2 separate regions of the Homo sapiens genome follow, and region 1 is linked to region 2. Evidence: fine-mapped expression QTL. A gene starts in region 2. The other region holds a variant in brackets. All regions are shown on one strand. Distances are from middle to middle. Region 1 overlaps TRERF1 (transcriptional regulating factor 1). Region 2 holds the start of TRERF1 (transcriptional regulating factor 1).

Region 1 (15,238 bases), 140 kb before region 2:
CGAGATCGTGTCTTTTGCAGGAACATGGGTGGAGCTGGAGGCCACTGTCCTCAGCAAGCTAACGCAGGAACAGAAAACCAAATATCCCATGTTCTTACTTATAAGTGGGAGCTAAATGATGAGAACTTATGAACACAAAGAAGGAAACAACAGACACTGAGGTCTACTTGAGGGGGGAGGGCAGGAGGAGGGAGAGGAGCAGAAAAGATTACAACTGGGTACTGGGCTTAATTCCTGGGTGATGAAATAATCTGTATAACAAACTCCCATGACATAAGTTTACCTCTGTAACAAACCTTCACATGCATCCCCGAATGTAAAATAAAAGTTAAACATTTTTTACGTGAAAAAAAAAATGACCGATGGTTAATTTTATGTTGGTGAATTTTACCTAATATATATTTTTTCTTTTTTTAAAAGAAGCTTCCTGGGCCCTACCATTAGAGACTTTAACTCATTAGGTCTGCGCTGGGCCCAGGGACCTATTTTTTAAAAGAACAACCTGGGTGACTCTGAGAGGGGTGGTCCCCAAACACAGCCTAAAAGGCAGGGTCGATTTGTGTAAACAATGCCTTTACTTTGGATGAATCCATAATGACTGATACTATTTACCTACTGAGTGCCAAGTATCTGCCAGGCACTGGGTTTGGTGTTTTTAAATGCACTATCTCAGAATCACACTGCAAGGTAGAAATGATCTCTTTTATTTTATAGATAAGGAGATGGAGGCTCAGAGAGGCGAAGTAAAGGGCACAGAGCTAACAATGGATTCAAATCAGTATCTGTCTGACTCCACAGACCATATTTTTTCTCTCTCCCTACTCTATGCCACTGGTTCTTCAACAAGCTCTTTCAGGCAGCAGGAATCTCATCTCTGTGTTATATGTGCAAAATGCTCTTTATGTCCCAGGCTTAGATCATCTTACTCCAAGGTGTGGTCTTTAGACCTGAAGCCTTAGCATCCCTGGGAATTTACAGACTCTCAGTCCTCACCTCAAGTTTGCTGAATTGGACTTTGCTATCCCCAGATAATTCATATGCACATTGAAGTGTGAGCAGCACTGGCCTTTGTAGAGCTGTGCTGTCCAATATGGCAGCTACTAGCCGTAAGTGGATATTTAAATGAATATTAATTTAAAATAAAATAAACTTAAAAATTTACTTTATTTTATTATTTTGTTTTATTTATTGAGACAGGGTCTCACTCTGTCACCCAGGCTGGAGTGCAGTGGCATGATCAGGGCTCACTGCAGCCTCAACCTCCTGGGCTCAAGTGATCCTCCCGCCTCAACCTGGGACTACAAACATGCGCCACCAGGGGTCTCCTTTAGCAGAGACAGGTTTCTGCCATGTTGCCCAGGCTAGTCTCCAACTCCTAGGCTGAAGCAATCTGCCTGTCTTGCCTCCCAAAGTGCTGGGATTACAAGCATAAGCCCCCGCACCCAGCCTAAAATTAAACTTAACTCAGCTTTTCAGTTGCACTAACTACTTTTCTTTTCTTTTTTAAGAAACGGGGCCTCACTCTGTCACCCAGGCTGGAGTGCAGTGGCTTGCTCACAGCTCACTGCAGCCTCTAACTTCTGGGCTCAGGCAATCCTCCTGCCTCGGCCTCCCAAAGTGCTAGGAGTATAGGCATGAGCCACCACGCCCCGGCCTACACATTTTAAGATGCTCAATAGCCACATGTGGCTAGTAGCTACCATATTAGACAGCACCAAATAGAACATTTCCCTCAATGCAGAGTCCTATTGGACAGGGCTCTCAGAGCAGCGTAGCTCAACCTTGGCATTTGTGACACTGTGGGTTGGATAATTCTTTGTTGTTGGTGGGGCTTTCTGTACATGGTGGAGCAGTAGTTCTCAACAGGGAGTGATTTTACTCCTCGAGGGATACTTGGCAATGTCCAGAGACATTGTTGGTTGTCACAGTTGGGGGAGTTCTTCTAGTATCTAATGGGTAGAGGCCACGGATGCTGCTAAACACCCTGGAAGGCATGGGACAGCCCCCAGCAAAGGACGATCTGGTCTAAAACGTTAGTAGGAGAAACCCTGCTCTAGTGTAATCAAGAGAACACTGCCAGTCTCAGCAGAACTGGTAGCAGGAGGCTAAGGAGGCCAAAGAGTACCCACCCCCAACCATTTGTCAAGCCCCAAGAAGCCTTCAGAACTCTGAGAAGCTACTCTCCAAGAAAGCAGGTGTCTATTTTTGCCAAAAATGCAGAACAAGAAGTTCTGGTTTCCAGAATAATCTATAAACTCATTACTAAAATGAAGTGCCTGCATTTCCAATCCCAAGGGCAAGGCAAGGAAGAAATTCCTTTTTGGCGTTGATGTTTGGAATGTGTGATAAATTCTGCATGTAAACCACAATCTGCTGTTGGTTAGGTGTAGAGATATATCACTCATTCAGTTGTGCATTCATCTATTTATTTATAAATATTTATTGAGCACCTACTATATGTTGGGTACTCTTCTAGTGTTGGAAACACAGCAGGAAACAAATAAAAGGTCCCTGCCTTTGTGGAGCAGATAGTCTAGTGGAGGAGAATAACAATATACAAGTAAGCAGGCATGTGTGCAATGTCATGGCAGGTATGATGAATGTTATGAAGGGAAATAAAGCAGGGTAAGGGTCAGAGGAGTGATGAACATGGGTGGCGCCTATTCATGGTCACCTGAAAAGGTGACATCTGGGCATAGGCCTAAATGAACTGGCTGAACCAGGTGACTCAGGGAAGGAAGAGAGTCCCAGGCAGAGGACACAGCAGCTGTGTCCTTCCACTCTTTGGTGGAATGAACTTGGTGGAGGGAGCCGGCAGGTGCGGTCAGCAAGGCAGGAGGCCAGGCTGTAGGCATGAGATCATGGAGGGGCCGGGCGCGGTGGCTCACTCCTGTAATCCCAGCACTTTGGGAGGCCGAGGTGGGTGGATCACAAGGTCAGGAGATCGAGACCATCCTGGCTAACATGATGAAACCCCGTCTCTACTAAAAATACAAAAAAAATTAGCCGGGCGTTGTGGCGGGCGTCTGTAGTCCTAGCTACTCGGGAGGCTGAGACAGGAGAATGGCGTGAACCTGGGAGGCAGAGGTTGCAGTGAGCCAAGATCGTGCCACTGCACTCCAGCCTGGGCAACTGAGCAAGACTCCGTCTCAAAAAAAAAAAAAAAAAAAAAAAAAGAGATCATGGAGGGTTGTGAGCAGAGGAGAGATGGGGTCTGATTCACTTTTCACGTGGAGAACAAACTACAAGAGGACAAGAGTGGAGAAAGCTGTTGTCGTCTTCCAAGTAAGAGAGGGTGCTGGCTTATTAATAATTCATTAATTAAACCATCAACATTAATACAAATTATCTATTGGGCCAATGCTATTACTCTTTTATTTCAGACATATCATGGGGAGACCAGGCATCGCATTCCAGCTACTTCTACAGAAAAATGCATTCTGAGTTCCATGATCAACTTGAAACCTTTTCCATCCACCTTGGTTTTAAGCTGGGTACTGTGTGGTTGGATAGAAGACAGCAGGAAAGGGAGTCAGGGATGAGGGCAGATTAACAGGAGGAAAAAAGGGCATCTCCCCTCATCATGCCCTTTTCCCCAGAGCCACCAGAGAAGAGCAGTCTGAATGGAACCTTCCTATCATACTCCTTCCAAGGTTTGTTGGGCAGCAGATAGATGAGCCCCAGCTGTTCTGCTCCAGGCTGGCTCTCCCAGAAGGATGGCACTGCAGCTGTGTCCAAAAGAGAGCTACGGAGTCTTTCTCAGAAGCGGGGAGCCCCTACTTTAGAGTTTCCGAAGATTCAAGGCAGCACTGGATCACGGAGTCAGTAGAAGTGGGGCAGAAGAATCCCCCTGTGCCGCTTACAAAACGCACAACAGGCATGTCAGCCAATCTCTCTGATCCTCGGCATTCCCCTCTGTAAAATGGAAACAACCTCCTTGGCCTCTCAGAGTGGTTATGATGGGTCAAAGCAGACAATGCTGGCGCTGGGTGTGCCGAGGTCTGGGCATCTGCACCTTCGGGAGCAGATACAGATGCTCCATCCTCCACGGGCATATGGATTTGTGCTGTACTCACATCCAGGTAATTTGGCTTTACCCATGGAAAGGGGCTTCCCTTTCATTAATTCATCGACTCCACACACATGCACTGGGTCTTAGTGCCGGGTGTGGTGTTTGGAAGAACAGTCAGAGGCAGCCCCCACTCTCCAGGAACACAAGGGCAGAGTGGGAGACAGACACGAAATAGGTTCTACCAATGTTCCTTCTCCTTCAGTGCCTGGTTGCCCAAATAGTTTTCTTGCCTTCAGACTAGAGCCACCAGCCTTTTGGGGCCTACAGATTCCCCTCATCTACCCATAGCTTGCAGCCTCGACCCTGGGGCAGTGCCCTCTGCTCATTTCCAGACTGGGAAGCAGGCCTGATTGTTTCTGCTGAAGCAGGAAAAGATGGTGAGAGAAAGGCAGGGCTGGCTGTGTAGAGAGGGGAACCAGCAGAAGTTTTGCCTTCAATAAGGCTTTCCTTCCAGCCCACACTTCCAGGACACCCACTTGTGACCCTGAGATCGCCTGGGGTTCGGCATCTCTCTGGTGCTTCCCAAGGAACGTCTTCAAGAGAAGGCTCCGGCTCTGAGTCATCTGAAGCAGAGAGGAGACCTTGTAAAAATAACTCTAAGTATGAAGCTCCTGTATTCATATTATTCACGATACAAAGAACAAAAAAGCAGGGCAGGAAGCAGAGGAGGAAAGTGTCGTTCACATCAGTTTTCTTCATATGACAAGCAGCCAGGAACTCAATTGCTAAGCCTCATCTCTCTCTCTCTGTTTCTCTCTCTTTCCTTGGAGCGATTACATAAGCTGGAAAAGGGGTCTTCTCTGCAACATCCTAACTCTCCCAAGAGTCCCTCTCCATCTGTCACCTGTAAATCTGAGCCTTCCCAGTAACGCTTACCGGGATGCAAACGTGCTCAAGTTGTGCACTCTCCTGGGATGTGGGCCCCAGAACAAGGAATTCCCTTGAAGACCCAAGGGCCTTCACTGAGCCCCAGGAGTGGGATTTCTGGCAATGTGACCATATGAGGGAGAACCTATTGGGGAGGCTGGCAGGGTTGGCCAGGTCTCTGAAGGCATATGTGGTGGGGCTTCCTTGAAAGACCTTGGATTTCAACATGTTAGGATATGTGGGCCTCAGGAACTCTCCTGGTCATATTCAGGACTTCCTGGGCTCCAAGCGGGGAGGTGCTGCAGACTCACTTCTACGTTGCCTTCTGAGAGCCATGGTCTTTATGGATCATGGAGGTAAGGACAGGGATTTTGAGACAAGGATGAGAGCCTATTAAGAGAAAAAGCAAAGGAATGAGACCGGAAGCCGGGAGAGATGAGAAATAAACAAGATCCTGGGAAACAGGGAACAGCTGGAGGTGCGGCCCTAAAGGGTTTTTTTTTTGTGCTTATCAGGCACGCCCCTTTCTGGAGAGGTGCCATAGTGGTGGTCCTGACCTCTTGTGGCTCATAACTGAAGACAAACTAATTACTTTTAGACAAATGCATGTACATATTAGGAAATGAAAACCTCCACCATGGCATGGTAAGTATAAGCTTCAGCTAAATTCAGAACCCTAGCTGATGCCAGTAAAAAGAACTATTAGCAAATTCACTGCTTTGTGCTTTGTAAACATCTCTATTCACAAGAAAACATGCTTTAGAGTATGAGTCTACCCTGATCGAACTCTTCATCAACATAAATCCCTGGTTTTACAACAAGAAGCCAAGCTCACCCGATGCTTTCAAATGTGCACAGTTAAACTAGGGCAGAGGTCCCAGCAAGCCTTGCAAAATTAAGCTCATGCATCTAAAAAAATACTGGCCGAGTGCCTCAATGCTAGGCATTGTTCTCCGTGACTGGCACGCAACAGTGAACAAAGAAGACAAAACTCCCTGCCCTCATGGAGATTTCATTTTAATAGGGAGAAACAGAAAATAAAAATTATTATAATTAAAGTGTATAGTGTATTAGATGGCTGTAGATGCTATGGGAAAAAACAAAGTAGGAAATAGTCAGGGAAGCCCTCTCTGAGAAGGTGACATCTGAGCAAATGCCTGAAGGAATAAGAACAATGAGATCTGGGGAAAGAGCATTCTAGGAGGAGGAACAGCAAGAGCCCTGTGGTGGGTACATGCCGGATGTGACTGAGGAATTAGAAGGGTGTGGCTGGGACAGTGAAAACCAGGAGGAAAGCAGTAGGAACAAGGTCAGAGATTCTAAACGTGATTTTAAAACAAAACAGAAGTATAAACTTGATGGAGCGAATAGGTTGGTCGCATAGGGTGCTTAGGAAAGGCCAAGGTAAGGAGGTGTCAGTTGAGCTGAGACCTAAATGAGCAAAGCATGAAGATGTGAGGAGAGAACGTTCACAGCAGTGGTGACAGCGAGTGCAGTGGCTCTGGCAGGGATGAGCGTGCATGTGGCAGGTGTGCAGTGGGTGGGATGAGGCAGCGTGGTAGGACGGGGTCTCCATTATGTAGGGTAGTGGTCTCCACCTGGAGTGATTTTGCCTTCCAGAGGACATTTGGCAGTGTCTAGAAACATTTCTGTGTCACGACTAGGGAAGTGCTATTGGCACCTGGTGGGCAGAGATGCTGCTAAACATCTTACAATGTGCAGGACAGTCCCTTTCAAGACAGAATTCACTAGCTCCAAATGTCAATAGCACTAAGGTTGACAAACCCTGGTGCAGGGCCTCACAAGTCACAGTAAGAAGTCTGGGTGCTCACAGAAGCACATGCCAAGGACTTTCTAATGCCTCGTGCCTGCTGGAGTGTGATCCTTACACGTGGCACATCCAGGTCTAGAGTATGGCACATTGGGATGAAAGAGAAGGGCGCTAGGATCGGCGCTTAGAGCACAGAAGCAGGGGTAGAGGCAAAGAGGCTGTGACGAGGTCACCCTAACCTAACTTGGAGCTAAGAGGGAGCTCCTGGAGTAGAGACAAAGGAGGTCAAATGAAGGGGGGCCATCGGGCTGTCTTCTAGCAGCTGATATCCTTCAAGAGACCAGGTGGGGCCCCTGGGTCAGGGTTGGGGAGAGGAACACCACCCCCCCCCCCACCCACTGCCACCCCCTAACGTCATAGTGAAGTGTCTGAGGGCTGGAGAACGCTGCAAGTCTGAGCAGTGTGGAAGGCACAGGTTGGGACCAGTGTGCAGACAGCTCAAGGCTCAAGAAGGACATCACCAGCAGAAACACAGGCAGAGGCTGAAGAGGAGGGACTTGGGTGGGGGTGCTCTCCTTTCAGGGGAGAGGACCCCCACACCTACCCTCACGGTACCTGGAAGATGCACATGAGGACCCAAGGGAGGCCTAAAAAATAAGAGGCTGTTTTGGGATGATCTCAGATTTGGTTCTTCCTGCAGAATGAGTTGTTCTCTGCTCCACTGGGGGTGGGGGCACCTGGACGTCAGGCTGCCTGGCTAATGGGTCTACACAAATGACATTTCGAGTCACAAGTTATTTAATTTCTCCGCCAAAGTCAAGAAAGTCCATGGGTCTGGGGAAGTGGCTGTGATGACCAATGACTCTGGCACGCAGTTAACCCCAAGCATGCACCTCCTCCTCCCCGCATTGCTAATCTTGATGATTCATCCAGAGAGGCTGGTCTGCCTCAGTGGAAAGAAAATCTAGGTGAGGGTCTCATTACTAAGAAATGAGAAAAATGCCTCAATGTAGAGGCAGGTCAGAACCCTTCCTGGTCACTATCCAAAGAAGCTTTTCTAACTTGGGGAGGACAGATGAAGGGGACTGCCTCATAGTGACTTTGTTCTAACAAAATTTTGGATGGCATTTTCAGGTGCCTGCTTATGTGTGCACAAGCAGGCAGACACCTTCATTAATACTCTTGAAACCACCTTTGCAAAGATTATGACAGTGACAGGAGTCTAGCATGGCTGACTCCATCTTGCCTCTAGCCTCACAAGCCAGCTGTCCTCCCTCATTCCTGGGTGTAGACCAAGCTAACCATGGGAGGAATTTAGTTTATTGTTTTAACTTTGAAGCAAGGATGATAACAGTCCCTCCCTGAAACGAACCCCCTCCTTGCTCAGGGACCAAAATCGCCTTTGTCTTGGTAATGAAAGGCCACAAGATTAGGATTATGGGAGGGGCCTGAATTCTGCTAACATGTAGGTGTAGCTAAAGGATAACCAGCCATTCCCCTCCACCGCCCCCAGCTTGCCTTTTTATAATCCCTTGCTACTCA[T/G]GAGTCATGTGGCCAGAGGTCACAAGATTTGTGACTTCCCCAATTGCTCCTATAGATAACATCACTATTGTAGAACTTAAGATGGGTCTTTTGAGATGCTTTTCAGACTTTTGCATTCTGGCAACCATCTGACTCTACCTGGACCTGGGACTCATGACAACCTGTCCTGTGGCCCCCTAATGTAGAGGCTGACTCAGCACACAAGGACCATTTTCCACACCCCTACGATTTCAACCTTCACCAATCAGCAGCTCCCATTCCCCTGTCCACAAAATTATCCGTAGAACACCCTAGCCTCTGAGTTCTCTGGGAGACCAATTTGAGTAATAACTCCAGTCTTTCTGCTTGGCTGGCTCTGCCTTAAACTGTTTGTCTACTACAATACTGTGGTCTCAGTGAATTGGTTTTGTCTGTGCAGGAGGAAGGAAGAACCTGTTGGGTAATTATACCCTCACTCAGCACTAATTTCCTCCTCAGTAGTTTTTGTTTGTTTGTTTGTTTGTTTTGAGACAGAGTCTTGCTCTGTTGCCCAGGCTGGAGTGCAGTGGCATGATCATGGCTTGCTGCAGCCTCAACCTCCCAGGCTCAAGCAATCCTCCCACCTCAACCTCTCAAGAAGCTGGGACTACAGGTGCGCACCATTATCCCCGGCTAATTAAAAAATTTTTTATAGAGACAGGGTCTCATTTTGTTGCCCAGGCTGCTCTTGAACTCCTGGGCTCAAGCAAGCCTCCCGCCTTGGCCTCCTAAAGTGCTGGGATTACAAGCGTGAGCTCCCAGACCTCAATAATTTTTAAAATAACAGTCTTCTCCACATCTAAAACATGTTCACTGTAAAAATTTTAGAAAACAGATACAAAATAAAAAGAAGAAAAACTCCATCACTTGTTGAGAATTATTTTTTTTTTTGCTAAACTTTTTAAGATATAGTTGAGATTATATTGTATACATAATTTTGAATCCTGCTTATAAAATAAGCATTTTGTCATGTTGTTAAAAGTTCTAGGCTAGGCACGGTGGCTCACACCTGTAATCCCAGCACTTCAGGAGGCCGAGGCAGGCGGATCACCTGAGGTTAGGAGTTCAAGACCAGCCTGGCCAACATGGCAAAACCCCGTCTCTACTAAAAATACAAAAATTAGCTGGGCGTGGTGGCAGGCGCCTGTAATCCCAGCTACTTGGGAGGCTGAGGCAGGAGAATCGCTTGAACTTGGGAGGTGGAGGTTGTAGTAAGCCGAGATCACCCCACTACACTCTAGTCTGAGTAACAGGGCGAGACTCTGTCTCCAAAAAAAAAAAAAAGCTCTTTGTAAATACTAGTTTTAACCATTGAATAATAATCCACTCTAACGCTACAAGAAATAGAGGTCCATATTCTCCAAGGTCTTATTTCGCTGAATACAAGTAGTTTTAAACCAGCCCCCAACACTGAATACAGGAAATTTCTGAGCACTTAATAATGAGTGCCAGGCACTCTACCCCTACCATGTAGGGTGGCTGTGGGGAGGGCTAACATTGGACTGACATAGACAAAATTTCTTTCTTTTCTACAGTCTTGGGATCTCTACACTTCACTTGGTGGAGGGTCATATTCCACTGTTTTCAGTGAAACAGCCAAGACGAACCCTTCATTCAGTTAAGAGGAAGCTCCAGGCTCTAGTTAGGCACTGGAAGTAAAGGAAATGTGGGTTAGGTCCCAAGAAGCAGAGGTAATGTGGACAACTGAAAGGCTCCAGAATGGATACTCAGGGGCTGGACAACTACAGCCTGAAGGCCAATCCGCTGCCTGTTTATGTAAATAAAGCTTTATTAGAACATAGCCACACCCATTCATTTCAGTATTATCTATGGCTGCTTTCAGCTGCAACAAGCAGAGTTCAGTAGCTGCAATAGAGACCATGGCTGCAAGCCCAAAATATGTAGTACCTGGTCCTTGAAGACAACATTGTTTGATTCCTGTATTGGGAGGCCAACCATCCTCCAAAATAGATGCTCTCCCTTCTTTGGCTAAGAGTCCTCACTTAGAAGTACTCTGAAGTGTGGCCAGCCAGAGACTACATTTCCCATCTCCTCCTGCAGCAAGGTGGAACTCCCTGACCAGTTCTCTCCAATGAAATGTGGGCCAAGTAACTTGTATCGCTTTTGGGCCAAGGTGGTTAAGAAGCAGGTGAGCCTTCTCCATCTTCTGTTTCCCTTCCACCTGAATGAAGAGTCCTCATAGGCCTGTGGCAGTGTTTCTCCACCTTTTCTTCATTGTTGCCCTCCTAAGGGGACTTTTTAGACATTTTTTTTCCCTAATTACTTTCCTCCATGACATTTTCACACCACAGATATACTCTATATCTGTTTATGTACCATGTAGATGTTTGTGATTTATGCATCAAAATGTAAGATTTTTCAGCCTCCAAGATCTTTGCCCCCTTGGGCATGATACTGCCCCCATTAAAGATGCATGCTCCAGAGTATAGCAGAGTGACAGAGGCAAGGCATGTAGATCCCTAAATTACCTTGTAGAGGAAAGCCAGTTACAACCAGAAACACTTGCATTGACTGTTACAAGGGCAAGAAATAAACTTCCTTCATGTTAAACTCCTGAAATGTGGGAGATGATTACAGCAGCTAATGTTGCCCTAACCAATACAAGCTTTTAATTTGATTGTTAAAAAAAGTATGAGCCTGGCACACTGGCTCATGCCTGTGATCCCAGCATTTTGGGGGGCTGAGGCAGGAGGATCACTTGAGCCCAGGAGTTCGAAACTAGGCTGAACAACATAGGGAAACCCCATGTCTACAAAAAAATGTAAAAATTAACTGGGTGTGATGGTGTGTGCCTGTGGTCCCAGCTACCTGGGAGGCTGAGGTGGAAGGATTGCTTGAGCCTGGGAGGTCAAGGCCATGATTGTGCCACTGCACTCCAGCCTGGGTGACAGAGTGAGACTGTGTTTCAAAAAAAAAAAAAAAAAATGGTGCATTCAATAGACATATAATAATATAATGCTATATATTATATTAAATACATTATATCATTATTATTTTTTGTTTGTTTTTGTTTTGAGATGGAGTCTCACTTTGTCTCCCAGGCTGGAGTGCAGTGGTGTGATCTCAGCTCACTGCAACCTCTGCCTCCTGGGTTCAAGCAATTCTTCTGCTTCAGCCTCCCGAATAGCTGGGATTACAGACACCCATCACTATGCCCAGCTAATTTTTGTATTTTAGTAGAGATGGGGTTTCACCATGTTGGCCAGGCTGGCCTCGAACTCCTGACCTCAAATGATCCACCTGGCGGCCTCCCAAAGTACTGGGATTACAGGCATGAGCCACCGCACCCAGCCATAACTAAATTATATTATATTATTATATGTCTATTCAATCAAACTTTTAATCCTAAATATACTCCTTTAGGGTTTAGGACAGGTTTCCTAAATCCTAAAGGGGTAAATTTAGGATTAAAAGTTCCTACTTTAGGTGGTGGAGCGTTTAGCCTATTGGCTCTTACATTGACATAGGACAACAATTTAAACAGATTCAAGAAGGGTTGAGATCAATTCTGAGCACAACCTATTAAAGACGAATACGTTAACTGTATTCATTTATACCCTCTCCATTTGAACACATCACTACCAAAACAAAAGTGAAAGAATTTTTTTTTTTTTTTTTGAGACTGAGTCTCGCTCTTTTGCCCAGGCTGGAGTGCAGTGGCATGATCTTGGCTCACTGCTACCTCCTCCTCCTCCCAGGTTCAAGCAATTCTCCCTACCTCAGCCTCCTGAGTAGCAAGGATTACAGGCGCCCGCCACAACGTCCGGCTAATTTTTGTATTTTTTAGTAGAGATGGGATTTCGCCATGTTGGCGAGGCTGTCTTAAACTCCTGACCTCAGGTGATCCACCTGCCTCGGCCTCCCAAAGTGCTGGAATTACATGCGTAAGCCACCGCACCTGGCCTAATAATTTTTTTTAAAAGGCATAACTTCAACAATAAAGGGAACAGGTGAGGGCTACCCAGGACAGAGATTGGGACAACTTTGTGGAAAACAGACAGAATATGGAAGATTAGAAACTGATGATGCAAGCACAGGAAGCCTGAGCTCCAGCGCTCAAATATTATGAGATTCCATTAGCCTGGCAAAATGGCCACAGGCTCATGACTCAGAGACGCCAGAACAACGGAGGGCAGGAATCAGATAGGAGGCTGAAAAGGGGGGAATTTTATAAAATCTGAAGTCAGAAGATTTGCACCCTTCATAGGTGGCTCATGAGGCAGCCAGGTTATCTATTCTTCCAAGCCAAAAAAAAAAAAAAAGGCATTTTCTTCTCTGGAGAAACTGAACTAACCAGCCCCAACCCTGAGACCCCCCTAAACCCCACCCTGAAAAAAACATTTGAGATCCAGGAAGCAGTAGAACCAATCTAGTAAAGTAGTAGAGGAAATCTCAGGTGACAGCTCTGTAGCAGACCTAGAATGAAATCAAATTTGAGAAGAATAGAGGACCCTGGGAGAAAGGGATATATAAAATACCCAACTGGCTAGAGAGTTTGAGAGAAAAAAAATGAGGATATAATAACAGCAAAGTTTTTAAAAAAAAGGCAATGAGAAAGTCTTGGAAAAATTAAAGCTGTAAAAGAAAGTATCCATAGTATATTACTTGGCTCCAAAGAGAATAACACATCAAGCATCAGGGTCACACACTTAAATGCCTTCAGCGTCATGCAAGTAAGTAAATAAATGAGCAAGTCAGGTATTGGAACACTTGCATATACTGCGAGTGGTAGGAACTGTGGCAAACTAGAGTAGGAATGCCTATTCTAAAGGGGACAGACTCCAGCAGAGTGTTACTATATGTGGGAAGTCAGACCATATGTGCCAGAACTTCCAATTTTTAAAACAAAACCCCAAACTCTAAATCTTTTATAAAAAAAACTCTACCAATTTTTAAATGTTGGCTGTAAGCCTAAAAAAAAATCACTAGGCAAATCAAACAAGTATGTCCAATGGTGGATTGTCAATGTGCAACTTGTCATTTATGCAATCACAATAGCATAAGCCCTATCTGCTAGTTTTTCAGCCTTTAAGATCAACCTGTAGATAAAGCATAAAAGACTGAATGGCAGCTACAAAATAAAAATGTAAATGTTTTCAATCTTAACAATGTAAAAGTAAAAGCAGAGATGACAGAAGTTGGAAAGTAGAAGGCAAATTAGGTAAGAACGCAAATACTGCCATTTTACTGCACCGGGACTCAGGAAGTACTGTTGTTAAGAAACAAGAAATATGATAGTAAGAATCTTACTTATAAAGGTAACTAAGCAGAGGAACTATAAATAATAATACAACTTTGTTGTGAGGATGTGGGGAGGAGAGGTAGAGGGATGGTATAAGGGAGTTAAGTTGTTATCTATCATAACAGAAAGTCAACAAGTAATTTCTAAAATAGGAGTAAAATTAAAGCACATTATTGAAAATATGGAGGTAAATGCCATAAACTAAACTAAAATAAAATAAAATTGAGTTAAAAGTGCCTCCAAGCAGTAGGTCTGGGTTAGGAAGGGAAGGGGCCAGGAGACTAATTTTTATTATAAATTCCTCCGAATGCAAACCCCCTGCCCCAAATAAAGCAAAATGCCCTTTTCAAGAAAATAACACAGATCAATTCGTGGGGTTGTATATTGGGACAGATAACTAAGCCTGCTAAGCTTGACTCTCAGATACTATAGAGAACGATCAAAAGAGTTTAAATAAAAATAATTTAATAAATGAACAAGTTATAGAGGTGTGGGGAGGATTAAGGCAACCAGCAATATATGGTGCAGCATGCAGAGACTAAGTATGAGACTAAGTATGAAGGGCAAGAAGGCAGAACAGTGTTACTGTAGCCCAATGCATCTGGAGGACTGGAGCTGTAGCTGTAAAAGATAGCCGTTGCCAGAAAACTGATGAGGCTGAGAGGAAGCAGGGGGATTAACGCTCCCTGCTTTCTGCCTATTCTTGGATCTCCTACTGGTGCCTCCTACTGGCCAAACCCAACCACACCTGGAAGGTAAAGTAAAGGAGCCTAGTTGACACAATCCACTGAGGTTGGTCTCCCAGGCCACAGCAGGGCAGAGAATGGCACTGGGAGGGGGTGGGGGGCAAGCAGAGGATAACTAGCACCTATTCTCACACTCTCCATTATCCTGCCCTCTCCATTGCCTATCTGAATGAAAAAAAAAAATGGATTCAACAAAACATGTATTTGTCTAAGAGTGGTAAATACTGACCTCCTCTAGTTCAGCAGCAGAACTAAGGAACTGTCAGGAAGAGTTGATAAAGGAGGTGCAACTTTCCCCCAGTTTTTTTTTTTTTTTTCCTTTTGAGATGGAGTCTCGCTCTGTCGCCCAGGCTGGAGTGCAGTGGTGTGATCTCGGCTCACTGCAACCTCTGCCTCCTGGGTTCAAACGATTCTTCTGCCTCAGTCTCCCAAGTAGCTGGGATTACAGGCATGCACCACCACGCCCGGCTAATTTTTGTATTTTTAGTAGAGACGGGGTTTAACCATATTGGCCAGGCTGGTCTCAAACTCCTGACCTCGTGATCCACCTGCCTCGGCCTCCCAAAGTGCTGGGATTACAGGTGTGAGCCACCGCGCCTGGCCTCCCCCAGTTTTCATTAGGGATACTGATGGATAACTTCCATAGGTCAGCCCTGCATTCTATCATGGGAGAGAGGAAAGATACCTATGAAGCAATAATCCCAGCAATTTGACAATAGGGAAGGTGAGACAACCATGGAGAAAGACCAGGGTACAAGGTAGCATGATAAGCACCCAGTGAAAAAGTGCAATAATAGGTGCCTCCAAGCCCCAAAACCAGGAGGCAACATGTCTTAGCAGGTTTTCCTAAGCAGGTAAGCATTGGTTGGCCCCGAAGGTTGAGTGGAATTAGACAGGAGGAGGCAGCCAGTGAGACATGTTTAGGGACAGCGAGCAGGTCTACCTGGCCACAGGAGGAG
Region 2 (15,238 bases):
GACTAGTCCAGAGCCTTGGTGTAGAGCTGGATCTCAATCCAGCTCTGACTCTCTCCTTTTCCACCCACCTCCCATGCAGACCCCATGGCTGGGAACCACCGAGGCTGGTAGTCCATGGGATATTTTTTGTGAAAGACAACCTAAACAACAGGCAGCCTTTGCTTTTTTTTTTTTTTTGCTTTTTTTTCTTTTGAGCTTCTTGCTCAAAACCTATGACAGTACCCACCAACTCTGAACAGGGCTGAAAATCACAGAAGTCTTTTTCTAATCATAGTTTTCAAATAAATTTAATGTGAGGCCCAAATTACTTTAACTGAAGACTCTTTTCTCCAAGCTAAAGAATTCACTCTTTCCTCTGTGCCGCTCAGTAACGCAGTCAAATGTTCAGAAAAATGCAGTACCATTTCTGATGCAGTCTTAACCCTTGAGTCTCTGGCTGGTATCAAGTCCTAAGCCCAAACTCCTTCCCAGGGACAGGGCAGCCTCAGCCTGGGGAGGCAGAGCATCTCGGTCCTCCACAGAGTCCCCTGCCTGCCCACTCCTTAGCATCTGCCCCCTTATCAGTTTTTCTTCCCTGTCATGATGGAGCAAGTTCCTGAAGTATCCCCCACCCCCTTACAAAGGCCAGATCTTCCCCTCAGACCTTCTCAAGGGCTTTTTGCTCAACTGACCCAACTCGTTTCTCTTGATCAGTCACTCCCTCTCCACTGATCTTTCCCATCAGCACACAAATTACCAACACTTCCAAAAAACCTCTTTCCCTTGTGCACATCCTTCCAGCTCCCACTCCGTTTCTCTGCTCCTCGCCTTTCATCATCAAATTTTGCCAAAGAGTTGACTACACGGGCTGTCCGCAGCTCCTCCCTCACGATCCCCTCCCAACTCTCTCCAGTCGTGGTCCCAGCCAACCCTTCACTCCACTGAAACTGTTCTTCACAAGTCACAGACAGATTCCATTTTGCCAAATTCAGGGCCTGGTGCAGTAGGTCACATCTGTAATCCAGCACTTGGGGAGGCCAAGGCAGGTGGATCACCTGAGGTCAGGAGTTTGAGACCAGCCTGGCCAACATGGTGAAACCCCGTCTCTACTAAAAATATAAAAACCAGCCAGGCGTGGTGACACATGCCTGTAGTCCCAGCTACTCGGGAGGCTAAGGCAAGAGAATCACTTGAACATGGGAGGCAGAGGTTGCATGAGCTGAGATCACGCCACTGCACTCCAGCCTGGACAACAGAGCAAGACTCCATCTCAAAAAAAAAAAAAACAAAAAACGATGAAACAAATCCAATGGTGATTTTTCTGGCCTTATCAGCCTCAGGAAACACTACACACACAGACACACACACACACACACACACACACACACACACACAGCACACACCTCCTTCACACTGCCTGTTCTTCTCTCTCCACGGGCTCCTTAGGGCATTCTGTCCACTCTCCTGCATTTAAATGTTCTCTCCATGCCGATGGCTCCCACATTTTTATCTCGTGCTAGGTGGTAGATCAGATTACCCTACTTGACATCTCCACTTTGAGTCTAATAGGCACCTCAAACTTAGTGGTGCCCCAACTAAAATATCTTGATTCTGCCCGCCTCCCTCTCCCAATCTTTCTTCATCTCAGGAAACAGCACCACCATCTACTCAACTGCACAAGCCAGAAACCTCGGAGTTCTAGATGCTTCTCCCCACCCCACAGCAGCCCTGCCCATTCTACTCCTAATGAGCATCTCACACCCACCCACTCCTCTCCATGCACCTCCTTCGCCTCCTCCTCCACCTGCCTCTTTACTGTGCTCTGCCTTTCTCTGCTCTCTTCTCCACCAATGCAATCTTCTTAAAACGTGAATTAGGGGCTGTCGCTTCCCACTCCAAACTTTCTTTTGTTTGTTTGTTTTGTTGTTGTTGTTTTTGAGATGAAGTCTCGCTCTGTCACCCAGGCTGGAGTGCAGTGGCACGATCTCCACTCACTGCAACCTTCACCTCCTGGGCTCAAGTGATTCTCCTGCCTCAGCCTCCCAAGTAGCTGGGATCACAGGCATCCGCCACCACGCAGCCTAATTTTTGTATTTTTAGTAAAGACAGTGTTTCACCATTTTGGCCAGGCTGGTCTGGAACTCCTGACCTCAGGCTATCCACCCGCTTCGGCCTCCCGAAGTGCTAGGATTACAGGTGTGAGCCACCGTGCCCAGTCCCACTCCAAACTTTCAATGGCTTCCCACTACACTTCAAATGAAATGTAAACCTTTTCAAAGCCCAGAGAGTCCTGCACAATCATCTCATGCTGCCCTCCCTCCTTCATCCTTGACCACCTGTGCCTCTTTGAGTTCTCCAAAACCAAAGTCCTTCTGCACAGGCTCTCCTCTGCTTCATGTGCTGTCTCCCCCAACCCCCAAACCTCAGAGAGGCCTTTCCAGGCTACTCTAATGAAATCCATCCAAGTCACTGGACTTGTGGTTTCATCAGAGCACTGATCACAATTGGCAAGCTGTATTTCTTTACATGTCTGCCTCTGGACTGTAAGTGAAGTGGTAAGGGTAGGGGTATGGGTAGAGGGAGATGATTATGTCTCTTTCAATTATCAATATATTTCTGGAGCTTTAACACAGTGCCTGGCAAATAGTAAGTCCTCAATAAGAAGCTGCCGCATGTATGAAAGAAACCAGGGCTGCTTATGGCATTAAAAAAACCCTCGTTCCGCAGCCGGGTGTGGTGCCTCACGCCTGTCATCCCAGCACTTTGGGAGGCCAAGGTGGGCGGATCACTTGAGGCTAGGAGTTCAAGACCAGCCTGGTCAACATGGTGAAACCCTGTCTCTACTAAAATAAAATTAAAAGTAGCTGGGCATGGTGGTGCACGCCTGTAATCCCAGCTACCTGGGAGGCTGGGGCAGGAGGATCACTTGGACCCGAGAGGCAGAGGCTGCAGTGAGCTGAGATTGAGCCACAGCACTCCAGCCTGAGTGAGAGAGCAAGATGCTGTCTCAAAGAAACAAACAAACAAACAAAACCCTCGTTCTTTGAGCTCAGAGTTATCACTGTTATTTAGGCACACGGGTTCTTTGTCCCCTTCCTGCTCTATCAAACATATAAAAAGAAATGTTTATGTTGCTAAACCAAACCCCAACAGCTCAGCATATGCTACCCCATGCCAGCTCATCGTCTTCCATGATGAAAGACCAAGAATCATCTGTTTCTTCAGTAAACCAAATTACTACAAGCAGCTACTCTGAGAACTTAAAATTCTTAGAAAATATCACAGAGGCTTTTTGTTGTGTGTTTTCTTTAGCCCAGAAGAAAAGATTTATTAAGAGAGCCCTGGGGTCAAACTCATGTTACTGAGACTATATTATTCCTTAAAAATGCCCACAGCACCCTTGTGGCAACGCACGCCAGTAACTGGAATCCAGCTGTTCTTGTCCTCCTCTCTCCACAAAAGAAATCAACTATTCGTTAGTTCTCCTTTATTTTACTGGTTTCCCTTCAACATGCAAATTCAGAAATATCATTAATCCACAAGATCCCAGATGATTTTAATCCTTCCTCCTCCCTCAGCCACACAGTTTTATGAGGTCGGAAATAAAATGAGCTGAATTCAACCGCCTTTAGAGCAGGACCATGAGCACCATTTATACCGCCTGGGGTATAAGCCACTTGCCTAGATCCTTACTTTTCTTTTTTGTTGTTGTTGTTTTTGTTTTTTTGAGACAGAGTCTCGCTCTGTCACCCAGGCTGGAGTGCAATGGCATGATCTCGGCTCACTGCAACCTCTGCCTCCCAGGTTCAAGCACTTCTCATGCCTCATCCTCCCAAGTAACTGGGATTACAGACCCCCACCATCATGCCCAGCTAATTTTTGTATTTTTGTAGAGACGGGGTTTCACCATGTTGGCCAGGCTGGTCTTGAACTCCTGACCTCAGGTGATCCGCCTGCCTCGGCCTCCCAAAGTGCTGGGATTACAGGCATGAGCCACCGCGCCCAGCCCTAAATCCTTACTTTTCATGGCAATGTCCAAAGTCAATAAAAACATCAAGAGCTTCTCCCAAAAATGCCCATAGTGAAATACAGAGAATCCTGGTGATAAAAATGATACTATATCATTATTATGAACCTTATCACAAATATTCAGCCAAATCCCAATTACCCACAGAAAGCAGGCAAAGCCACACTGGGCTTTCTGGTCTCCAGTTTCTCCCCAAAGCTATCTCCTCCTGCTGCCTGGGAATAAGAGCTTGGTTAACCTTAGACTTGACCAAGGATTAGACAAGTTAACCAACTGGCTGGAGAAGAAACTTCTAAGATGAACAGAAATTATTTTTGGTACCTAGGATATGTACATGCTGCACTCTCTGTTAGTGCATAGAATTGAGAATTTTTTGTCCAAGACACTGGCAGACATTTATTCATAAGTATTTCCTTGTGTTTGATGGTCAAGATCACCAGGCCACTCAAGAGACCTTTCTGGAATACCAAGGATCAAATCCACTTTCTCCATGAGAAGACAAAAACAGAAGTTAATCAGCTCACCCAAGTCCATGAAGCAATTGGCCGTTGGCTCAGGAAGAGACTGTCAAGACCTCTGGAGACCTCGCTTACAAGACACAGAATTTCAGAGCCGGAAGGGAACTCACGGATCAAACCACGCACTTTTAAGATAAAAAATCCAAAGCCCAGAAATGGCTAGAAATTGGTACCTTCCCCACCTTTCTTTCCAGTGATGTTTCCCCTAGCCTTGAGCATCAAACTACTTTAAGTTCTTTGTCACTTTACCAATACTGTAAACTTAAGCCAACTATTGAACACAAGACAATTTTAACACTTCCTGGCTAATCAGCTTCACAGAGAATCCTTACATTTGTCAAAAAAATAACGCTTTCGGTTATTATAACCAACCCACCCATTAAAGAAGGAGAAAAAGAAAATCATAAACAAGCTTTATTTTTTGTGACCACACATTTTATTATACAAGCAGCAAAGAACACTGCAGTCTGTCTCCTCTTTTACACTTTAAGTTCCTAACTCAACAAAAACCACAGGCCCAAGCCGGTTATAGGAGGCAAAACTGAGTACTTTCCACACAGTTCATAGAACAACTGTTTTCACAGCAAGCTCACATAAATGCTATGTGATAATAACACATGCCTGCTATGTGGAAGCCTGCTTACCAAGCTGTGAAAAGACCCATGTTTACTATGGAACCTGCAAAATTAATCTTCTCATACAGCAGAAGGGAAATGCTCTTTTTGGGATGTCAAGCTGGCTTCTAAACAATCCTTTGGCGAAAATGGACATGCCTAAAAGGGCGGAGCCCAGAGAGGTGTGTCACTCCGGGTATCAATTCCTATAAATCAGATCCTGACAATCACCACAATATTTTAAAAAGAACGAATTATGATTCATGGGCCTTCAAGCCTTTATTACCGCAAGAACATTCTCGGTAGAAGAGGAAAAAAAAAAAAAACTACTGTGACTTGATTAATGGCCAAAGCAAGACAATAAAATAAATCTCATAAATATAAGGAAAAAAACCTGAATGACTGCTCTTGGCTCTGAGGCTAGGCATGTAAATAATTCCACCCTGGAATGAACATACATAAAGATTTTGTTTACCCTCCCAGCAAATACAACAACCAGACTCAGATTTTCATCAGGTAAAAATAATAGCTAATTTGCTTAACTAATGCCTAGTTAGGAACATTTGATAAGCAGCAATAATATTTAATTCCCAACTAACTCAACTCTCAAACTGCCAAATATCAACCCTCAATCTGGAAATCTGACGACAGTTAGGAAAGAAAAAAAGCACTCTCCATCAGCAATGTGTAGCGAGTTTTTTAAAACCCATTTTTCTCGACCCTGCTAGAACAGAGCCTGTCTACAGAATTGCAGAAAGCTTAACCAACCTCAGTTAACCCCACTGCCTAGTGGCTACTCCCTAACCCTACTAAACGTCTCCGGGTTGGACCCGAGATGCTAAAATTATCCTAGCAAAGTTAAAACTCCCAGCATCATCAAGGTAGCTGACAGCTAAGACCTACAACTCTTCTGCAGAAACCAGTAGGCTGAGGACCAAGAAAACAGAGGCAAGGAGAGGCAAAGGCTGCTGGTTAACTAGTTAAGCACTGAGGACTCCTGCTGTTATCCTCTCCAGTCAGTGAGCATCAACACCACACTTCCTATCGCCAAACTCCTTTCTTAAAAGGGTCAGTGATGCAGAAGGTGGGTGCTAACTGGGACAACTTAAAACTCCCCTTCTTAAAACTCTCCTCAATGACCTGCTGAAAAGTGCACCTGGACCGGTTTTCAGGAGATATTTTTTAATGAACTCTTTAGCCACTACAGGGGCGGTCATTCCTAAGCACGACTTCCACGCACTCACAAGACAGCCCAGGCCATGCTGAATTGAAGCCATCCCCTTCAGTACTGGCACTTGCCAAAGCTGCGTCTAGTCTGGGGAAGAGTTTCCACAAAGCTGGCTCTAACAGGCCGGTAGAAGACACACGGAGGAACCAGAAAGCGTTTTCTTGTAACCTAAGGATGGCAGGCGCACATGCTCCAGTCCAGTGCTGGCCAGAGGCTGCCTGCCAGGTGCTCTCGGCCTCCGCTGGTGAAGGAGTGGTTTGGTTGGTTTTTAATATCTGTTTCTTAAGACCACCGGCAGTAACTTCCCAGTCTCCCAAACTGAAGTTGGGGAGTGAAGGAACAGGTTTACCCCCTTACACATTTCTCCCATCTGGGTGGCCACACTAACTTCTGGGGAGTACCCAGCCCCCACAGAGCCCGCAGGCGCGTATACATACACATATGTATCATGTCAAAAACCCCAAAAGGCAGAGTCCTGCGGTTTCTTAGCTGGAGAATGAAGCCTTTATAACATCACAACCTCAAATGCAAGCCCACCATCACTACCTTTAAGCCAGGGTTGCCAATTATAGCGCCCACCTCATCCCTCCCCCTTTGCTGGGATGCTGTGCAGCCCGGAGAGGGAAGAAGGGAAGAAGGGAGAAGGCCTGCTTGCATAGTGAAAGTAAAGGGGGGGGAGACTTCTCCTTCTGTCTCCCCACTCTTCCCTCCCCACTTCGCCCCACCCCCGTCTTCTCGAGGAGCATCCCCAAACTAATTTTTTAAAAATGAAACTTAATAAGCTTCTTGCCTACCTTGGCTGTTTCTGCAACAAGTGCATGGGCAATCCGACGAGAAGACCAGTATCCGCTTGGGGGGTGAGATGGGGGGCGAGCAGAGCTGATGGAGTAATTTCAATATTAATTTATGTCAGCCGCCTTCTCTCAGCGCTACTCACTTACTGTACTGCCCTCAGCCTGTAAACAAATATCGCTCCGCCAGGAAACATACTCCCCAGATGCAAGCCCCTCTCCCCAGCAGGGAACCTGGCCCCTCGTCCCCCCGACAAGAGTGTGCTCCCCCACCCAGGGTAGGAAGCTTTGGGTTTCCAAAGCACCAACCCACCACCTCCTCCACCACCCCAGCAAGAAACTTACTCGGTCCGTCTACGCCTCCACCCTCCCTTCAGGAAATCTACTCTCCATATGCATTCAGCCTCCCCGCAGGAAATCTGCTCCCCCCTCCCCCCTTCTATATACATGCACCCCTCCCTCTCCTCCTCCCCATGCGCCCTCCCCGGCCAGAAACTTACTAGTGAGCAAGCGTGCAGGCTCTCCTGATGCTGGAAACTTACTCCCAGATATAGCGCCCGCCAGCCCCCTTTCCCAGCCCTGCTCCCCTTCCTGCCCTCCGCCGCAAGCAACTCCAAACTCTCCGCATCCAGCCGTTCTCCCTCCCCAGTGGAAATTTGCAGCGCCGGGCTGCGCGCGTGCATCCACCCTCCCCTTCAGGAAACTTACTCCCCATCTGCATGCACCGCCTCTCAGCCATCGCTTAGAGGGAAGGGGGTGTGCTGGGGAGACAGAAATACATATGTATCTCTCGCCCCTCCCCCGGTCGCAGCCCACTCGGGGCCGAGCCGCGGTAACCTGGCCTTACCTTTGCATTGCTCCCCATCCTCGCCCCCTCCCTTAACCCTCCTTATCCGCTCCCCGGTACCCCCCTTTTTTCACCCATTACCCACCCCTAGCAACCGTTCCCAAGCTCCTCTCGGCCTTTTTTTTTTTTTTAAATCCAGGATGCAAATTCCTCCCTTGTCAGCAAATCGACTGTCAAATTATTTTCTTGCAAAAGGAGAAAGGCGGGGTGGGGGGGGGGAGCAGGAGCAAAAAGAGGGGGAGGGCGGGGGAAGGGAGGGGGAAGGGAGGGAGAGGGACCGAGGAGGGGAGATATCCCTCCGCAGAGCTGGGTCTGGCCGCGGGCGGGGAAGCAGGAAGTAAGGTGTCCAGCGCCGCGACCGGCTGGTCGTCCGCCTCGGCCCCCGCCCGCGTCCCCTTTCCCCCGGGGCGCAGCGCTACGGCGGGCGCGGGCCGCCCGGCGCATTGTTCGCAGCCTTCGCGGCGGTGCGCTGCTGACTTTATTTGTGCGCTTTGCGTGTGCGTGAGGTTGCACCTTTTGTAGGCTGGCGAGTCTCTGGACGAGGATGGGACGGGGGACACGGGCCCAGTTGCGGCCCTGCGCGAGCGGGACCTGTCAGCCCTGAGGTGCAGCGGACCCTCCGGCATGGCCGGAAAATCGAGGCCGGGGAGAAGGCAGCGTGGCCGGGAAGCTGCCGCCTTAAACCCGGACCAGTGCAGGATTGCTTCCTGCGTAGCCGTCCCGGTTATTGTAACACGCTTTGCAAGCTAACGACTGGGGTTTGTGAGGGGGTTTGTTTATTTTTCTAAGTGTTTGCAAAGATGCCGAGGTCGAGGCGGGCTGCGAGGAGACGGTCCGCGCCTACCCCCACCGCACCCTGGCCTCGGTGGGGCTGGGAGAGGGCTGGGGCTCCGGAGAAGGGGCTGGAGGTTCGCGAAGCGCGCGTCTCCATCCCTCCGCCCCGATGGGGGCGGGGAAGGGGTGCAGTAGACCGCGCTGGAAGAGCAGCTCTCTGGGGAGGGGTCTCCCTTGCCGCGGCAGGCGCAGCAGGCCGGGGAGGGGGGTTGCCTAGGAGAGGGGCCGGGCGGCGGAGGGGAGGGGAGGAGAGGGGGCGCGGGTGCAGCCGCCGCGCGCGCTCGCCCCTCCTCGCGCGCCATGACTGTGGAACGTGGTGCCGGGGAGGAGGGACGGCCACCGGGGGCCGCCCGGGGCTGCTCGGCATTGGTGCGGAAACCCGAGCCCGGAGTCGCTCCCTCGCGCTGTCTCCTCCTCCTCCTCTGCGGGGGAAACCGCTGCACCCAAACCGGGAGCAGCTGCGAGCAGGGGGCAGGGCGCGGGCTGAAAGGCGAGCCGAAGGTTCAAACCTCCGCGGCGCGGGCGGGGGCGGAGGGCAACAGCAGGACGGCCCCCAGGTCCCGAGAAGGCGTGGCAGTGGTCGGCCCAGGTGTCAGGGAACCTGGCCTGAGACCCCTGCATTTCCAAGCTTCTTTCCTGGTCAGAGGAAACGTGAACCAAAGGTAGTTCAGCTAAACAGACCACCTCGAGCCGGGTTCGAGGCATCTGTCTCGAGGGCAAGACAGTATTTTTTGCACGACAGAAAGTTACACCATCCATTTTTTTCCGTGGGGGAAATCATTGCGCCCCTTCCCCCAAAATGTCGCGCAAGAAGAATGACCTCCCGCTACCCAGACCTTCGCCAGTGTCCCCCACCCCACCCCCACCCGGGCGCTGGGTGTGGATTGGGCGGAGGGAGGCTATATGGGAGCTTAAAGCATGAGGTCATGAGCGGAGGAGACTGCTGCCAAAAGCACCCGAGGTTTTTGTGTTTTTTGAGGGGTAACGGTTCTCCATCTTCAGCAGTGGAAAGTCCTCCCGCCTACCCTACCAATTCTGGGGCACGTGGACCACAGAGTCCCTGAAAAGAGGAGGGGACCCGGGCTATTTCGCTTAATGAGCGTTTGGCGCGTGCCCAGCCCTTTATGGAGCCCTTCCACATAAGCAAAGAAAGCCGAGGGACAGCGCACAGTGTTGCGGCGACTGGGAAAGGCTTCAGATGCTCGATGTCCCCCGCCCTCTTTCCTCAGTCCTCGGTCATCTTCCAAGTGGGCTGCTTTCTGCGATAGCTTCCTGTCCCCCTCCGACCCATTCCTCCCAAGCGACTAAAACTCCTAATGACATTATTTTAAAGCCTTCAAAACCCTCTTCCATTGCCCTTAGAATAAAGCCAAGTTGTGATTTCGCCTCTACAGACCTCTCTACCCGCCCAGCTCTTCCTCGGATATTGTAAGCCCCGTCAAGCTTTCTTTGTTCAAGGGGTGGAGGAGGGGGCGCCTAACCTTTCCCCTTCCACCTCTTCTTACTAACTCCTGCTGGACCTTCAAGATTTGACTCAACTGTCAGTAACTTCAAGATGCCTTCCTGAGGGTACACCCAGGTCTCTACCTCAGGGGAAAAGACCTACCCTAGGTCTCCTGGCAGCAGCGCTGTGGCCGGAGTTGGCCCCAGTGGCGGCCTTTTTCCAAGCGGAGGAGGAACAGCCAAGCTAAGCTTGACCACCGTCACCGCCCAGGGACCTGAGCGGGAGCTGGCTAGGACAAAACCTCAAAACGGGACTTGGGAAAACCGCACCACCCAGAAAACTCAGCCCCTCCACCTCCCTCCCAGCACACACACACACCCTCTTAATCTAAAACTCCTCCCCGGGGCAGATAAGGAACCTATTCGGAGAGTTAAGTTAATTGCCCCAGGTCAATGTGGAAATTCACAGCCTGTCTTTCCAGCTCCTAAACCAGAAGCTGCAGAGAAGGAAGGATTTGGGATTTGCGGCTACACAGCCAAGGACGCTTTTGTCATCTTCAAAGGACCCCCTACACCCTACACGCTTGGCCCGCTCTGTTCATTGCCAACAGAGTGATGGTAATGCCAGATGGTTAGCTCTGCAGGCTCTGACCTTAGGCAAATTACTTAACCGCTTGGTTCAGTTTCTTTGCCTGTAAAATGGGAATGATAGTATTCATATCATAGTGTTATTGTGAGGTTTAAATGAGTTATTTTATGTAAGGCCTTAGAGTTTAAAGCAAGTTACTAATATTTGTGAATAGGGTTGTGTATCCTCCCCCGCCCCGCCCCCCCCCCACCTTCCAAAGGACTCTAGAAAATCAGATCCTCAGAGTCTTAGCTGATTGAAGCATCAGAAAAATATCTATGGGGCCAGGCGGGGTGGCTCACACCTGTCATCCCAGCGCTTTGGGCGGATGAGGTAGGCGGATCGCTTGAGCTGAGGAGTTTGAGACCAGCCTGGACAATGTAGAGAGACCCTCTCCACGTTTATTATTAAAAAATAAAAAATTAGCCAGGCATAGTGGTGCATGCCTGTAGTCCCAGCTACTGAGGAGGCTAAGGCAGGAGGATGGCTTGAGCCCACGGGGTTGAGGCTGCAGTGAGCAGATTGCCCCACTGCACTCCAGCCTGGGTGACAGCGCAAGACTCTGTCTCAAAAAATAAAATTATATATATAGAGAGAGGGAGAGAGAGAGAGAGAAAGAGAGCACCAAAAGGACTGGGAAACACCGGCAGATGCACAGACAATGCATCCCTGATTTTACCAATAGACTTGACTCCCAACAATGCATACTCTTGAAGGCAATCCACAGGTTGAATAAACCAAGTCCATGAGCGCTGGGTCTGGAATCTTTCTACAATCAGGGTCAGAAGGAGGGTGACTGAAATTAAAATATTAGCTTGGATCTTTGAAATCAGAGTCAGGCTGAAAAAGTCCCAATCTTAGTTCAAAACCTGTCCTGCATGACTGAAGCCCTCCTAGGGCTGCACAAAGTATAATGGAATTATTATTATTATTATCATTAGATCCTAGTCTTACCATTCTCAGCACTTATCCCCATAGCAAAAGACCATTTTTTAATGTAATTTATTCTTTTGGAATAGGTTGAATGCATTCACATGGTTCCAAATTCAAATAAACAGCAAGAAGTCTCCCTCCCACCCTGTCTGCCACCCACTTGGTTTTCCTTCTCTGGAGGCAACCTGGGTTAGTGGTCAGAAGATGCATTTAACTGTTTTCCAGCTGAGGCCTTGTGAGAACTCCTCGGACACCAATTTAAATCTTTATGTCCAGAACTCCTTTCTCCAATCCAGGTAGAGCCACTCCCCTATCCTATCCCCACTCCCACCCTTCCCCCCTTCAGCCTCAATCCTAAGCAGGCTCTATTAACAATGATGAGCCACCATTTCCTCGAGCTACTAACAAATGCAAATGTTTAAATACTTTGTGGTTCTTTTTCCTCTTCTACATTAATTGCTAACATTTATCGAGGGCTTTCCGTGTGCCACGCACTGTGCTAAATACTAGGCATGCATATTCTTATTTAATCTGCCCCAAATCTTCATCATTATCCTTATTTACAGATGCAGACAGAAATGAAAGTTCAGAGAGATTATGTAATTTGCACCAATTTGCATCCAGGCCAACCTGAATCCAAACCCTATCTCTTTTTACTTTTTCTTTCCTTTTTTTTTTTTTTTTTAAACAGGGTCTCACTCTTGTCAGCCCAGATGGCATGCAGTGGCACAGTCTATGGAGGCAATCAGGGTTAGCTGTCAGCTCACTGTGGCCTCAACCTCCCAGGCGCAAGTGATCCTCCCACCTCAGCATCCCCAGTAGCTGGGACTACAGGTGTACGCCACTACCCCCAGCTAATTTTTGTATTTTTTTGTAGAGATGAGGTTCCACCATTCTTGCCCAGACTGGTTTCGAACTCCTGGACTCAAGCGATTTGCCTGCCTCGGCCTCAAAAAGTGCTGGGATTACATGCATGAGCCACCACACCCGGACCCTCTCTCTTAAATAGTGGCCCTTTTGCCTCTCTGCAACACAGGAAAAATTCTGTTAGCCTGCATCAGAAGGAGTGGCATGGAGGCTTTGGAGTTAAGAAGATTTAATTCAAATTATGTGTCCGGTGCCTGCCAGCAATGAGACCTTGGTAAGGTTTCTTAACCTCTCTGAGCTGGGACCATACCTTCTGCGTTGGTTTAATATAAAGGTTAAATGCATGTAAATAAATGACTTCTAAAATAAATAACATTCTAAAATGTTAGTAACAACTAAATACAATATTTAGATCTTGTGAGGATTTGATTTGAATAAATAAGATTTTTTTAAAAGACATTTTTGAGACAAAATGTAGACTATCTGATATTAAGAAATTAATCACTTTTTCAGATATGATAATGGCATTGCAGTTTTTTTTAAGTTCTTATCTATTACAGATACATAATGAGGCATTTTGAGTGAAAATATATCTAGGATTTGCTTTCCAATACTCCATCCCCTCCCCATCAAAACACTAAATAAATGAAACAAGATTAGTGAAATACGGAAAATTGTTGAAGTTATTCATTATTCCATTTCCCATATGGAACTTTCCATACTAGTTTCCCTACTGCTGTTGAATATTTGACATGTTTCAAATACATTTGAAATAAATTTATTGTCTGAGATGATCAGGTTGAAAAATAATAAAATGAAATAAATTTAAAAGTAAAATAAACATAACCCTTTTAAGCATTAAAATTAAAAATTATGAGGCTTGTTGAATTATTACTGTTATAAATAATTACATACATGTATTTTTGAAACAGTCTTGCTCTTTCACCCAGGCTGCAGTGCAGTGGCATAATCACAGTTCACTGCGGCCTCAACCTCCCAGGCTCAGGTGATCCTTGCACGTCTGCCTCCCAAGTAGCTGGGACTGCAGGTGTGCACCACCATGCCTGGCTAAATTTTTCTCTTTTGTAGAGACGGGTTTTGCGATTTTGCCCACACTGGTCTTAAAGTCCTGGGCTCACGGGATCCTCCCACCTCAGCCTCTCAAAGTGCTGGGATTATAGGCATGAGCCACTGCACCCAGCCTAACATTTTTTAAGTTAACAAAATACAATGCTAGTACATAATAGGCATCCAGAAATGGCATTTTTTGTCACCATGAGCCATTCAGGGTAGCATGTAAGTCAGACCTGAGCCCTGAAAAGAGCAAGGTAGACAGGTAATTGTTAAGGACGCATTTAATTCCACAGAAGACAGCATATATGAAGGTAAATGGCAGAAGGACTGGGTGACAGGAACAGGCAAATTAAAGTTAGGGGCTGGTTTTCCCTGAAAATGTGCATCACTGCAGAGACACCTCAAGAATTTATAGACTTGGAATCAGATGCACTGGGTGAAATTCTCAACTCTGCTCACGGTTCTGCCACCCAGTCCAGAACTGTGACTGACTTCCCTCGTTTTCAGTTTAGATGCTAGAACTCTCTGGCTCCTTCTAGTTGTCTAGACTGTCCACAATGCTGCTGGCTTTCCCAAGAGAAGGATCATTTCTGAGGCTACGCTGGTTATTTGCCTATCTCAGGAACAAATCAGAGCTGAATGGAAATGTATCCAGTCCATAATCAAACGAAACGTTTTAGGCCCAGTGAGCATTTGTATATTGTTCTTGGAGTAATTTTTCCATGCTCTGGATTTAAGCAGCTGGAATGATTTTTACATATGACCCCGTTTTGAAATGAAAGTTTGTCCTCTTTAAGAGAAAGTGTGCATTTTGGGGAAAAGATAAGACAATATATTTGGTAACTCTTCAAATAAGTGAACCCTTCTATAAAATACTTCCCTTTATATTAAAGGTGGAGCTTTGGGAGAGCTTCTTAAAAACTGGACAAACTGCAGGCATGGAAAAATAGACAAGAGCATGGAGGGGGAAATACCACCTCAGTTGCCTTTCTACCCACTGCTGCAGAATGAAGTCTCAGAGAGGCAACAGGACCAAATGAAGGGGATAGCACAAATCAAGTGTGTGCTTTAGGGATGAGTGATGGATATAATTCATGCAGTTGTTGAAGCAGTCCCAGTGATCCAGAGGCAGGCGAGTCGTTCACTTTCAGTGGCAAGTGAAAGCAATGAAACAATAGGGTTGTAGGGTGTTTCTCAAACCCTTGTTTCTTTGCCATCCTTGAATCTGCAACAACCAAAGCAATGAAAACAAAAACAGAAAATTGAGGCACAGGAGGGTTTATGGAACTCCCATTTGAAACCAACAAGGCAGCATAATTTATTGTAGTAACTTCAACCCTCAATTCTGTTAAGGATGGTATTGAGAGAGCTGGCCTTACTCAAGACCAGAGGCCTAACTGATATTTGTTTAGTAATACTAAGAGATTGCTATCTAGGGTAAGTTTCTAGCCAGAG

Evidence for each region. PIP is the estimated chance that this variant, and not a neighbour inherited with it, causes the effect.
Region 1: its variant is fine-mapped to the expression of TRERF1 in whole blood (INTERVAL, PIP 0.97).

What each region holds. Positions count from the first base shown.
Region 1 is chr6:42,308,615-42,323,852 of GRCh38, forward strand. The region is part of intron 3 of TRERF1 (transcriptional regulating factor 1); the gene reads right to left. Among named protein-coding and RNA genes, the nearest start is that of MRPS10, 98 kb to the left of the region's middle. RefSeq lists enhancers at 6,650-7,317, 7,386-7,445, 8,036-8,125. The variant T/G (reference allele first, on the strand shown) is at 8,253.
Region 2 is chr6:42,444,017-42,459,254 of GRCh38, forward strand. It overlaps TRERF1 (transcriptional regulating factor 1), which reads right to left and starts at 7,910. Exons shown (of 18, transcript NM_001395490.1): 1 at 7,658-7,910; 2 at 7,161-7,245. It overlaps LOC124900214 (arf-GAP with GTPase, ANK repeat and PH domain-containing protein 2-like), which reads left to right and starts at 8,344. Exons shown (of 4, transcript XM_047419627.1): 1 at 8,344-10,266; 2 at 10,764-10,899; 3 at 11,929-12,138; 4 at 12,720-13,168. The coding sequence starts at 8,805. The coding sequence ends at 9,902. LOC107986596 (a long non-coding RNA gene) reads left to right here and starts at 8,344. Exons shown (of 5, transcript NR_171668.1): 1 at 8,344-8,609; 2 at 10,201-10,266; 3 at 10,764-10,899; 4 at 11,929-12,138; 5 at 12,720-13,168. RefSeq lists silencers at 8,375-8,454, 8,925-9,364.